4 linked regions of the Homo sapiens genome follow. The protein of the gene in region 4 purifies or fractionates together with the protein of the main gene of each other region. This does not show direct contact. Each region holds a gene or a part of one and is shown on either strand. Other genes may lie near its edges.

The links.
Region 1: the proteins of IRAK4 (region 4) and SASH1 purify together in Homo sapiens (affinity purification with western blotting, with the first as the bait; one study listed by BioGRID). This does not show direct contact.
Region 2: the proteins of IRAK4 (region 4) and RNF152 purify together in Homo sapiens (affinity purification with western blotting, with the first as the bait; one study listed by BioGRID). This does not show direct contact.
Region 3: the proteins of IRAK4 (region 4) and ALDH5A1 purify together in Homo sapiens (affinity purification with mass spectrometry; one large-scale study listed by BioGRID and IntAct). This does not show direct contact.

What each region holds. Positions count from the first base shown.
Region 1 is NC_000006.12:148,349,269-148,352,886, reverse strand, and holds part of SASH1 (SAM and SH3 domain-containing protein 1), read right to left. Parts: intron 1-3,618. UniProt on the Homo sapiens protein: Is a positive regulator of NF-kappa-B signaling downstream of TLR4 activation. It acts as a scaffold molecule to assemble a molecular complex that includes TRAF6, MAP3K7, CHUK and IKBKB, thereby facilitating NF-kappa-B signaling activation.
Region 2 is NC_000018.10:61,810,172-61,813,009, forward strand, and holds part of RNF152 (E3 ubiquitin-protein ligase RNF152), read right to left. Parts: 3' UTR 1-2,838. UniProt on the Homo sapiens protein: E3 ubiquitin-protein ligase that acts as a negative regulator of mTORC1 signaling by mediating ubiquitination of RagA/RRAGA and RHEB.
Region 3 is NC_000006.12:24,518,883-24,522,500, reverse strand, and holds part of ALDH5A1 (succinate-semialdehyde dehydrogenase, mitochondrial isoform 2 precursor), read right to left. Parts: intron 2,101-3,618; coding exon 1,957-2,100; intron 1-1,956. UniProt on the Homo sapiens protein: Catalyzes one step in the degradation of the inhibitory neurotransmitter gamma-aminobutyric acid (GABA).
Region 4 is NC_000012.12:43,775,906-43,779,523, reverse strand, and holds part of IRAK4 (interleukin-1 receptor-associated kinase 4), read right to left. Parts: intron 1,895-3,618; coding exon 1,780-1,894; intron 1,332-1,779; coding exon 1,222-1,331; intron 1-1,221.

The sequences.
Region 1 (3,618 bases), on a different chromosome or scaffold from region 4:
GCAATTCTCCCTGCCTCAGCCTCCCCAGTAGCTGGGATTACAAGTGCCCACTACCACACCTGGCTAATTTTTGTATTTTTAGTGGAGGTGGGGTTTCGCCATGTTGGCCAGGCCGGTCTTGAACTCCTGACAGGTGATCCACCTGCCTCGGCCTCCCAAAGTGCTGGAATTACAGGCATGAGCCACCGTACCCAGCCAATAACTCACATTTATGAACTGCTCATCGTATGTCATGCACAGTTCTATTTATTTATTTATTTATTTATTTATTTATTTATTTATTTATTTATAAGAAGGAGTCTCACTCTGTCTCCCAGGCTGGAGTACGGTGGTGTGATCTTGGCTCACTGCAACCTCCACCTCCTGGGTTCAAGCAATCCTCCTGCCTCAGCCTCTTAAGTAGCTGGGACTACAGGCGCCTGCCACTATGCCTGGCTAATTTTTGTATTTTTGGTAGAGATGGGGTTTCACTATGTTGGCCAGGGTGGTCTTGAACTCCTGACTTTAGGTGATCCACCGCCTTGGCCTCCCAAAATGCTGGGATTACAGGCGTGAGCCACCAAGCCTGGCCTTTGTTCTCATTATTTAAATAATCCTCATGAGAACCCAATGATGTTGGTGACTGTTAACCTCATTTTACAGATAAGGAAACTGAGGTACAGAATAATTAAATAACTCACCCAGGTCACATGTCCGGTAAGGGTTAAAGCCACAATTTGAACTCAAACAACCTAAAATAGTTCCTTTGCTCTTAACTACTTTACTATTCTACCTATCAGTTTTCTAAGAGATGTTCAATTAACTTTTGTTTGTTTGTTTCTAAATGTTTTAACTCACAGATTAAGGTTGTTACTCTTCTCTTTCAAAACTTTTTTTTTAAAAGACTGGGCATTTCCAAACAAGGAATGCTACAAAGTTGTTAATGGTTTATTTCACAAAGGAGGTCCTTAAAATCCTATGAAAACAGACAAAGACAAACTCCTATAGCAAAGATACATATTCTTGAACTAGAGTATTCCTTTCCTCTACAAATAATTTAATGTTGAAACACTAAATTTTTAAAGCACACACACACATAAACATGTTTTAGCTCTAGGTTAAAAACAATTGTTGGCTGACAGCAAGACCAATACAAAATTATTATTAAAGTCAACAAAGTCAAGGGTGCTTAGGATACATTTTAAAGGAAACTAGGTCCTACTAGATTAAGGGCAGTTAAAAAAAAAAAAAAAAAAAGCGGTGAGTAACTAGGGCTCAGGGCATATCCCAAGATTTTTTATTCTGCTCCTCAATGGCTCTTTACTTAAAAATCATGTGATTCTTATAATGCTTTTATTTTCTTTCTTACTACCTCATGCTAGGAGAAAGAAGGAAGCCACAACCAGGCAGAGTGATGGGTGGACACATGGAAACTTCCTCACTCACTACTTGCTGCAAAAGGAATCTAGCAAATAGTGAATGAAACATCAAAATCAACCATGAATGGAACTTGCATCAGACACCCAAGGAGAACTGCAATGTATCTCTGTGAACACAGAGAACATTAGTCTGAAGAGCAAACATAAATACAAATATATTTCCGTTTTCACCAATCATCTTGAAAAACAAACATAAATACAAATATATTTCCATTTTCACCAATCATCTTGAAAGCCATAGAAGAGCCTTTCAGAAAAAAAAAAAAAAAAAAAAAAACTACTATCGCAGAAAGGAAATACTAGCCCTTTCTCAAGCGTTTGTCTTCTGAGTCTCAGAGTTACCATAATGCCTGGATACCCAGTCTCCAGGATGGAGATGTCTGTATTACATGACTTGACATGGCAGGAAAGATACAAGATAGGTTATCTCTGTGAAGCATCTCTCCTCATAAAGAATTAATGCTGCCCAGTGAAACACTTCAGAGAACAAAAGAAGGGACGTTCAACATCTGGCTAGGAGCAAAGCTAATGAGGAAGAGACCTACCATTTTCAGGTCTTCTTACAAAAGTGAATTAATAAATAGATGAGCATATCATTTGAAAAATGACAATTTATGTACTCAAAAAATACATTTTATCTCAAAATTAGTCTGAAGGTTTAGTTAATTCTTGTAGTCTCAGTCTGTACTCACAGGTATTAAATGGTATCACTGATAGTGAGAGTCAGTCTCTGTCCATTTAGATTCACTCTTTTGAGACCAATTTCATTTTTACTAATGCCAAGAATGTGTGTCAACCACAGGTAGGCACATCGTCTATTACAGTGGGATTATGACAGTCAAGTCTTAGACACGAAACAATCAGGTAGCACCACAGCACTCTTAAAAAGGACACATTAGATAAACAATAGTTTTTCCTCTTACATCCTTTGTAAAATTGAGCTACGGATTTGCAAATGAATAAATTTGCATTGAACTACATATTTCCCACTATTTCACTGTACTCTACAATTAGCTTTTAAAAGAATGATTTAAAGATCTTTCAGTGGTGTGCATATTGTTATAAATAATAATTCCCCCTTTTAAGGAACCACATTCTATCAGTATAGAGAGACAGGTATACAAATATTTGTACATATATACATGGATAGATACTTTTTTCTTTTTTCTTTAATAAGAATTACAGATGAGATCTCGCTATGTTACCCAGGCTGGTCTAACTCCTGGCCTCAAGCGATCCTCCAGCCTTGGCCTCCCAAAGCAGTGGGATTACAGGTGTGAGGCGCTGTGCCTGGCCGCCTTTTCCTTTAGAGAGAAAGAAAATCTGCCGGGCGCGGTGGCTCACACCTGTAATACCAACACTTTGGGAGGCCGAGGTGAGTGGATCACGAGGTCAGGAGATCGAGACCATCCTGGCTAACACGGTGAAACCCCATCTCTACTAAAAATACAAAAAATTAGCCGGGCGTGGTGGCAGGCGCCTGTAGTCCCAGCTGCGCAGGAGGCTGAGGCAGGAGAATGACATGAACCCGGGAGGAGGAGCTTGCAGCGAGTCGAGATCACACCACTGTACTCCAGCCTGGGCGACAGAGCGAGACTCCGTCTCAAAAAAAAAAAAAGAAAAAAAGAAAATCACAAGGCATACGACATCTCTAAAATGTCTTGCATTAACTCAGCCCACTCTTGAGCATAAAAGAATTATCAAAAGAAAGTTACCATGGAGCAGTCTTGATTACTTTAGAGACTGTACAAAGTGTTGGGCCTCAGGCAGCCAGAGGACAGGTAATGACTCGACACAGAAACATCTGGTTGGGGCTCTCACTATCCCTGCCTGGGTCACTAAAGTAGTCTCCTTCCCTCCAACCTCATTGCCACCCCATCGCCTACAAAAGTTACTTTTCTGGCCGGGCGGGCGTCGTGGCTCACGCCTGTAATCCCAGCACTTTGGAAGGCCGAGGCAGGCAGATCACCTTAGGTCAGGAGTTCAAGACCAGCCTGGACAATATGGTGAAAACCCATTTCTACTAAAAATACAAAAATTAGCCGGGCATGGTGGCAGATGCCTGTAATCCCAGCCACTTGGGAGGCTGAGGCAGGAGAATTGCTTGAACCTGGAAGGTTGAGGGTTGCAGTGAGCCGAGATCGCGCCACTGTAACTCCAGCCTGGGCAACAGAGTTTGACTCACTCAAAAAAAAAAAAA
Region 2 (2,838 bases), on a different chromosome or scaffold from region 4:
GAAATTAGCATCTAATCCAATATTGTATAACTCACAAATTGGAAAACATGACTAATAACAGTTTTTTACTGAATTTTAACTCCAATTACAGCTAAATCGTGGTGTGTGTGTGTGTGTGTGTGTAGTAAGTCAGTTGTGTCAGAAAAATCAATGGCTTGAATTTCCACTTATCTTTTAGAAGTGTTTCATGTTGGCTGGGTGCAGTGGCCCATGCCTGTAATCCCAGCACTTTGGGAGGCCGAGGCGGGTGGATCGCCTGAAGTCAGAAGTTGGAGACCAGCCTGACCAACATGGAGAAACCCCGTCTCTACTTTAAAAAATACAAAATTAGCTGGGCATGGAGGCGCATGCCTATAATCCCAGCTACTCAGGAGGCTGAGGCAGGAGAATAGCTTGAACCTGGGAGGCGGAGGTTGCAGTGAGCTGAGATCATGCCATTGCACTCTGGCCTGGGCACCAAGAGCAAAACTCCATCTCATAAATAAATAAATAAATAAATAAGTGTCTCATGTTGAACAAAATCCAGCAACTGAACATCGTTGCTTTTTAAATAGACTACTACTTTCAAAACAGCTACTGAATTATCTCGACTATCTTATTATTCTCAATAGTTTCTGTTTTGGTAAGAATTACCTTGTAGGTGACAATTTACTGAGAATGATGGAAATGTCAAGGAACAGCTTCTCTATCTAAGTCAGGGATGACAGACTGACTACCTGACACTTCTTATGTGGAAACAAAATGCTGACTGGTGGGCAGCATCACTTTTCTGAGAAAAGATAGAAATTGAAGTCTTTTGTGTATCACTCCTTTTGCACCGATAACTTTTGAACTTCTATCTTCCTATTAAGGCTAAAGAAAGATTAGTATCTTGGCAAAAAAAAAAAAATTAAATGATTTTTAAAGGCAAGCTAAGAAGGAAAGTCTTGCACATTGATGAGTTCTAGAAAAAAAAAATCAACCCATTTCTGCTAAAATGAAGTAAATGTATTTTGTATATATTCCATTTGGAAAACAATGAAAAGCAGACTAACCAATTTTGAAACAACATAAGTTTTCAAATAAAGGGATGGGAACTCTTAAAATCAAAATCTAGACTGGAATAAATACCAGATTATCAGTAAGAATCTGGTCTTTATAGGAAATATATCTCAAACTGAATTTTCTGCTTCCTTTTATTTAGCTAAAAAGTAATTATTGTAGCTTTAGTAAACTTCAAGTCTTTAAATTTCATGGGCAGTATTTTTTACTGTTAAAAAAAGTGCTTTTGTGCAAAGCTTCAAATCTTCAACTCTTTCAGGGATAACTGAAATTTTTGCTTAAAAAAGAAAGACACTAAAACAATGTCAAATCTCATTCTAAAAATACTACCTACATTTTAGTTTGGCATCTGAAAAATGATGCCCACATATGCCCACACCAAATACAACGACAAGCTGGCCAACTTCAAGGGCAAACAAAACCAGTCTGAACACTGCAAAACATGCTTGCTCTTATATTTGCACCTTACTAATACAGCAATGAAGTTTGGATAGGATACTGGAAGTGAACAGGGATTTCATTAGGCTTTTTTTTTCCTGTAACATTTACTTTTTGGCCACAAGACCCTAGACACAATTTCACAGTACAGATCATGCATAGCTTGCAAGTCAAACGTTTTACAGGTACTGTCTAACTACTATTTTTGGACAATAGGTTAACATGCAGCTAATGATCCCAGAAAAGGGGCTTAATAAAGCATTCTTTAAGCTTCACTGATCATTCCTTGGCCTAAAATCTATAAGCAACAGTTCCAAAGGGCAACAATGAATTTTTACTGTCATACTTGAGATCACATACTTTTTAAGCCCAGAAAGGAATGTTTTGCCTTTTGCCAACTGCATGTCACTAGCCCACAAACTCTCACCTTAGCCTCACTGTTACTCCATTAATACCTTGATGCTGGATCCCCAAGCGCTATCACCCAGAACTGCATCGTTCAATATGGCAGCCACTAGACACATAGGGCTATTTAAATTTAAGCTAATTAAAATTAAATAAAATTTGAAATCCAGTTCTTCCCTTGTAGTAACCCCATTTTAACTGCCTAAAAGTCAATGTGCCTGGTGGCTACCGTACCAGACGGCACAGGTTTTCGAGCATTTCCATCATCACAGAAAGCCCTATTGAACAGTGCCAATCTAGAAGATCTCACAGGTTATACCATCACATGGTTTAACCTTCAAGGGACCCAATCTGTAAGCCATGCAAAAAATTAAACTTAATTCTATTTTTAAAGAAAACATCTTAGAGCTTTCTGATCATTAAGTATGACTGGAACCAAAAACCAAGTTGCCTTTTCATCACAACTTATGCCCCAAGTCATTATACAAAATTTTTCCAAAGACAATGCTTCTTAGTAGCATTCTTGGCTCTACTTAACATATTAAGCATTCTCTTCCTTATTTCAAGATCATTAATAAAGATGAAAATTCATGCTTCTTATAGTTTACTATTTATACAACACTCACTGTCCTTTACATACAAGTGGGGTGGGAGGTTTGGACACCAATGTTTTACAATTTTAAAAATTCAAACCACATGGTTTGATAGTTGTCTTTCAACATCTATACTCATCCCTAAGTCAACCCTCCTTTCATTTTCCCAGAGAGGTAGATGCTAACTAAAATGAGTACATAAACCTACAAAAAAAATTCTTTAAAGCAATAGTTGACTCAGTAAAGGGTATTCATCAACCCTAGAAAGGATCATAGCCAGATAGAGATATAGACAGACCTAGGATGGAGCAAGAAGACACTGCAGTGCGAAGTTCATATCCCCCCCTTTCTGCAGAATTAC
Region 3 (3,618 bases), on a different chromosome or scaffold from region 4:
ACACACACACACACACACACACGAAAGAAAAGAAAAAAAAGCCACCCAATCCATGTTTTTTTCAAATGGCTTTTATTTTGTTTCCCTGGGGGGTGGGGAAAGAGTGCAATTCTCCTAGGAGACTGTGATGCTGCAGCAACAGCAGAGGCTAAGAGGAATGTGGTCCAACACCAACTTATAGTCTTTTGTTTTGCTGACACAGGGTCTCGCTCTGTCGCCCAGGCTGGAGTGCAGTAGTGATGAGTTCACTGCAGCCTTGACCTCCAGGGCTCAAGTGATTCTTCCACCTCAGCCTCCCAAGTAGGTGGGACTATAGGCACTTGCCACCATGCCCAGCTAATTTTTAATTTTTTTTGGCTGGGCGCAGTGGCTCATGCCTGTAACCCCAGCACTTTGGGAGGCTGAGGTGGGTGGATCACCTAAGGTCAGGAGTTCGAGACTAGCCTGGCCAACATAGTGAAACCCATCTCTACTAAAAATAGAAAAATTAGCTGTAGTCCCAGCTACTCAGGAGGCTGAGGCAGGAGAATCTCTTGAATCCGGGAGGTGGAGGTTGCAGTGAGCTGACATCATGCCACTACACTTCAGCCTGGGCAACAGAGTGAGACTCTGTCACACAAAAAAAAAAAAAAAAAAAAAAAAATTGTAGAGACAGAGTCTCACTCTGTTGCCCAGGCTGGTCTCCAACTCCTGGGCTCAAGTGATCCTCCTGCTTTGGCCTCCCAAAATGCTGGGATTACAGTTCTGAGCCACCATACCTGTCCCCAAGTTGTAGCCTTACAGTGTAATTGATGGTAACATATATTGACATTTTGTATTTATGAAGGAAAATATACTTATTTCAGACAAAACCAAGCTTATTTAGGTTATGTGGAAGGGAAAAACTTAATTACCAAAGGCCAAGGCAAGGATGAAAATTATTTGATAGAGAATATCACACATTTCAGTTTTTTCACAATATAACCTTTCAGGGATATTTACTCTGTTTCTAGAATGCATTTAAAATTACATATTGATGGTACTTTTAAGATGAATGCTTAAGAATATTTAAGAAGGCAGGACCCTGGCAGCAGCTTGGATAGAACTGGAAGACAGGAGCCTTGGCTCAGAGTCCCAGCTCCTCAGCAGATTTGACACTGTGGCCCAAAGACGTCTGATCTCTAAGTCACTTTTTCTTTCTAGAGTTTCATTTCCTCATCTCTAAAATGCAACGTTTGTAGAGCTGATAACTGTGAAGGTCCCTGACAGATCAAATATTCCAGGATTTCCTAGGAAGACATGAGCTCAGGCCTCTGGTCTCCCAGGACAGCCTGGATGCTCCTCTAAAACACTGCTGGCGTGGGCCTGTGCCCTGTAGAGGGCACCTCTGAGGCTCCCTCCATCTCGGGACAGCGAGGCCCCACTGGGTCATAGCAGGCAACAGGGTTTTGAGTTATTCCAGCCACCACCCTCCTCAACATTTTCTTACTTTCTTTCCCTTGGCCTCAGAGACCCCAATTGTTCAAGGCTGTTCTGTGTCTGAGGAGATTATATCCGTTCAGTAGAAAAAAGATCAATGAAAGAAAACTATAAAAATAACCAGATTAAAAGGATAGGGGAAAGAAGAAAACAGAGAACAATTTGACTAAAGGACATCTGCTGTTCAGAAAATTATTTGAAGCCAGGGACTGTACCTTATTTTGGGGGGGCCCCTCTGAGCCTAGTATAACCCTGGTAATAAAAAGTAAGGCATATACTAAATATTTGCTGAAAGAGTCAATGAATAAAGAATGAATAATGGAAGGAACCCAAAAGTTTCCTTATGGGATATAAGGCAGTAGAGGTGGTGGGATCTTTGTAACACACACACACGCACACACACACACACTCACATGCACACATATCACACACACACACATACACACACTCACACATGCACACGCAAACACACATCCTGAAATACTCTCCAGGACTCACCTGTCCAGTGTTCCTAAATTTAGATGCCATGGCCCCTGCTACAGCCTGGTCCACGTTGGCACTGTCAAATACTATAAATGGAGCAAGGCCGCCCAGCTCCATAGAGACCCTTTTCACAGAGTTTGCTGCGTGGTGCAACAGGATCTGTGAGCAGAGGAGAGAAAGCTGTGAGCACAGAAATCCATTACCAGGATTGTTAAGCCTTTGTTTAAAAAAATTACCAAATGGTGAAAAAAGCAAGGTGCACAGTGGTGTACATGGGATAACTTTGCATAAGAAAACGGAGAAATAAGAATATATATTTACATTTGCTTGTATTTGATAAAGAAACATTGGGAAGAGGCTGGGTGTGGTAGTGTGCACCTGTAGTCCCAGCACCTTAAGAGGCTGAAGTGGGAGGATTACTTGAGGCCAGGGGTTCCAGACCAGCCTGGGCAGCATAGGGAGACTCCATTTCAAAAATTAAATAAATAAATAAATTAGTAAAATAAACACTGGGATGACAAGACACTAAAAGTCATTATTTATAGAAAGAGGGAGTGAGTCAGGGTTGGGGTAGGGTGAGACTTGTCATGGTAAACATTAATACTGTCTTAATTTTTCAACCATATAAGTAAGTGTTTATCTATTCAAAACAATTATATGATGGGCTTAAAAATCATAGAGATAAGAAAATAAAATCACCTAGAATCCCACAACCCACAGCTTACACTGATAACATTTTAAAGTACATCCATTTAGAATGTAGCCATGCAGATTCAGGTACATGTACATTTAAAAAAAAAAAAACAGGATGGTATAATTATATAATTATACCGTTTCGTAACCTGCTTTATCTTCCCAATGAATCACATATTTGGGACGTCTATCTTAAAATTTTCATAACCCTTTATATCTTGCTCCTTTAATGTAACACTCTAATGTGAAGATCCTCTTGTGTCAGCACATATGTTTCTAGAACTTTATTTATTATTATTATTGAGATGGAGTCTCGCTCTGTTGCCCAGGCTGTAGTGCAGTGGCGCAATCTCCAGTTACTGCAACCTCCACCTTCTGGGTTCAAGCAATTCTTCAGCCTCAGCCTCTTGAGTAGCTGGCATTACAGACATGTGCCACCACACCTGGCTAATTTTTGTATTTTTAGTAGAGATGGGGTTTCGTCATGTTGGCCAGGCTGGTCTTGAACTCCTGACCTCAAGTGATCTGTCTGCCTCAGCCTCCCAAAGTGCTGGGATTACAGGTGTGAGCCACTGTGCCCGGCCTAGAACATTCCTTTAGATGCTTGCATAGTATTCCACTGCATGGCTCTTCTGTAATTTATTTATTCAGGCCCCATCTGTTGGACATTTAGGTTGTTTCCATCCTTGCCATTAAAAAAACGCTGTGGATCGCGCCACTGCACTCCAGCCTGGGCTACAGAGCGAGACTCCATCTCAAAAACAAAACAAAACAAAAGACAAAAACACTGTGATGATTCTGTCAGGATGAACATGTAGAATTGCTAGCTCAATGTATAATCATAAGGCTTTTGGTACCTATAGCTATTATAGTTTAAATATCCAGTAAGAGATTTCATAGCCTAAGAAGCTGCTTAGGGATGTTTAAATGCTTTATTAAGGATAGTAGGTCTTTGTCTAGTCATGGCTGCAGGAAAGATGGGAC
Region 4 (3,618 bases):
AGCCTACTAACTGCCTCTTCTTACAAACTGTTCTCTACACTAGAGTTAAAATCATCTTTGCAAAACTTAAATATGATGCCATATTCCTACTTAAAATTTTCAACGGCATCTCATTACACTTGTGATAAAACTAAAAGCCTTACCTTGATCTATTAAGTCCTATAGGACTTAGCTTCCTACACTTCTCTGTAGTTTTATCTCCAATCCACCACCCTATAACTTTCTGCATCTCAGTCATACTGCATTTACTTCATTTTTTTTTAGACAGAGTCTTACTTTATTACCCAGGCTGGGGAGCACTGGCACGATCATAGCTCACTTCAACCTTGAACTCCTGGGCTCAAGCCTCCTCCCTCCTCAGCTGCCCTAGTGTCTGGAACTGTAGGCATGCAATACCACGTTTGACTAGTTTTTTTGTAGAGATGAGGTCTTGCTATGTTGTTCAGGGAACATAGTCAGGTCTGCTACTCCTGGCCTCAAATGATCCTCCTATCTTGGCTCCCAAAGCATATTTCATTTCTTGTAACTCATCATGCTCCCATATTCTGTCTCACCACTGGTCTTACAAATGCAGTTCCTTCTGCCTAGAATGTTCTTCTCCCCATCATCCATTCTACAGTTACCCTCAAATTGTGTCTACTTATTTCCTGCCCATTCTTTGAATCTCTGCTTAAATGTCACTTTCTTGGAAACCCTTCTTTATATTAATCCTATGTACTATACTATATAATAATAATACATATAATATATATGTGAACTGTACATATTAACATTCTATAATTATTTTGTGCTTATTTGATTGATGTTGAGCTCTATATATGAATATGTTACTTATAGTAGGTAAATATTTAACTAGATAAATACACAAGAAAGAAAGAGAACTGAAAAGTACTCATGGAGGATGAAGGTGATTCAGAAAAGAATAGTGATCCATAAACTAAGAAAACAACTAATTTCCATAAGGCAAAAGTGTCAAGAAGAACAGAATAAACTACTATTAAAACAAACAAAAAAGGTCAAGTAGGATGAGTACTGGAAGTAGGTCACTGGGCTTGGAATAAAGGAGATTATAGATGTCCTTATTGAGAAGAGCTTTCATGGAGTGATGGGAAAAAAGTCCAGATGCTCTAGGTTAAGACCTGCATATGAATCGTGAATAGAGTGACAGCAAATTATTCTTTAAAGACAGCTTTCCAAAAACTTTTAAACAGTAGCATTTACCTTTTAATATCTCTATGAATATGATGATTTTCATGTAGAAAATTGATGCCATTAGCTGCACCCTGAGCAATCTTGCATCTCATGTGCCAAGAAAGTGGTGGAGTACCATCCTTATAAAGAAATAAACCAAATTAAAAATGAGAAAGAATAATAAAAAATCTACAGAGAATATATAACACAGAATATTTTTCTAGGCAACAACTGAAGATGATGTTATAGCATTAATAATTTAGGACTACATTTTTAAGTTATTAAAAATAATATCTAAATAAGCTCAAATGGGTGTTTACATTTGTTATTTGAAGATAAAAATATATAAAAGCATCTTCCTAGTATAGTCTTAACTGAATTCTACATTTAAGATTACCACCTAATAAAATGGCAACCCAGTTGTTGACATATCAACTGTATAATTTGTTGACATATCAACTGTATAATTTTCATAGAGCAGGAAAAATATGAAAGTGAATTTGGTTTAAATAATCCAGTAACAAAATGAATATTAATATTCCAGCATATAAACAAAAAGCCAAACAATCTGATGAACAAATAGCTTACCAAGCAAGAGAGTCTGTCTAGCAATGAACCATTAGGCATGTAAACATATACTAAGCAGAGGTCATCTCCATCACTTGAGAAACCAAGTAGTTCTACTAAGTTTTCATGTTGACACCTGTGACAAATAATTTTTCATGCAAAATTATTATAATAAATATATATTCAGCTATAGGTTGGAAGTTATTCAAAGTTTTAATAGAAAAAAAGAGCAAAAAAATAGTATGTTATATATTATTTCTAACTTGATGTTTATGTTTATATATGTTTATTGTAACTGTTTATAATTTTCTGCAAATACTTCTCTTTTCAGCCAGTATTAATCAACATTAGAAGTAAAACCTCTTTTTCTTTTTTTTGAGACAGGGTCTAACTCTGTTGCCCAGGCTGGAGTGCAGTGGTGTAATCATAGCTCACTGCGGCCTCGACCATCTGGACTCAAGTGATCCTCCTAACTCATCCTCCCAAGTAGCTTGGACTACTGGTGTACACCACACTCAGCTACTTTTTAAATTTTTTTGTAAAGATGAGGTCTCACTGTGTTTCCCAGACTGGTCTCAAACTGCTGGCCTCAAGTGCTCCTACCACTTTGGCCTCCCAAAGTATTGGGATTACAGGTGTGAGCCACTACAGCTGGCCAAACCTCTTTCTATTTTACAGTAAAAGCTAAATAATTCAGATTTTTGGAACTTGTGATAAGTTTGGTTAAGGACTAGGCTGATGCTCACTTTCTTTAGCCCAATTTTCAATGATGGCACAAATAAGATTTCAAGAAGTCCGTTGAATTTTTATGCTAATACTGTCAAGAATTTTCTAACACACTCAAAGCACTGATTTACAGACATGATCTTGAATCACATCTAATTTACATGTTTTTGATCTTTAATCACACTGGATTATTTATAACCTAATTTGAGTGTCTTTATATACTTGAGAGTAATAAAACTAAAGAGACCTACAATCTAATAAAGTGGCAGCATCTGTGGTAAGACGAAAGAAAACAGGGCTCAGAGTTATACATCCTAAATTTAAAGTCTAGTTCTGCCCCCTCCTGGATATGTGACCTACCGCAAGTTAACAGCCTTACTGAGCCTCAGCTCCTTTATCTGCTAAATGCAGAAAACAGTATGTAATATGGATGCTGAGACAATTAAATGAGCAAATGTAAACATGACAGCCTAGAAACGTATCTGGCACATGATAAGTGTTTTATTATTTAAGTGCTTATTCATTTTGTTCATTCAAAATGATCCACAATTCTAGCAGTTCATTATATCAATTTCTTCTAGTCTCATAAATATTTGAAGAAGTGCAAATTAAAACAGTAAGTGTCCCATTTTCCACCAAACTGGCACATTTTAAACATGAGTAGTTAACGTTTGCTGAATTTATACTATAAACGAGGCAGTGTGGCAAGTGATTTATCTGTTTTATTTAATCCTCACAATAACTTAAGTAAGTACTATTGTCCCATTTTATAGATGAGAAAATTAACGAATAGAAAGTTAAAAAACTTGGCCAAGTTCATTCTGCTAGTAAGATCCAGAGACTGGCACTTATTAAAAAATTGTAATAATAGGCCGGGCGCAGTGACTCACGCCTGTATTCCCAGCCGAGGCAGGCAGATCACGACGTCAGATCTAAACCATCCTGGCTAACGTGGTGAAACCCCGTCTCTACTAAAAATACAAAAACAAAATTAGCCGGGCATGGTGACGGTCGCCTGTAGTCCCAGCTACTCTGGAGGCTGAGGCGGGAGAATGGCGTGAACCTGGGAGGCGGAGCTTGCAGTGAGCCAAGATCGCACCACTGCATTCCAGCCTGGGCAACAGAGCGAGATTC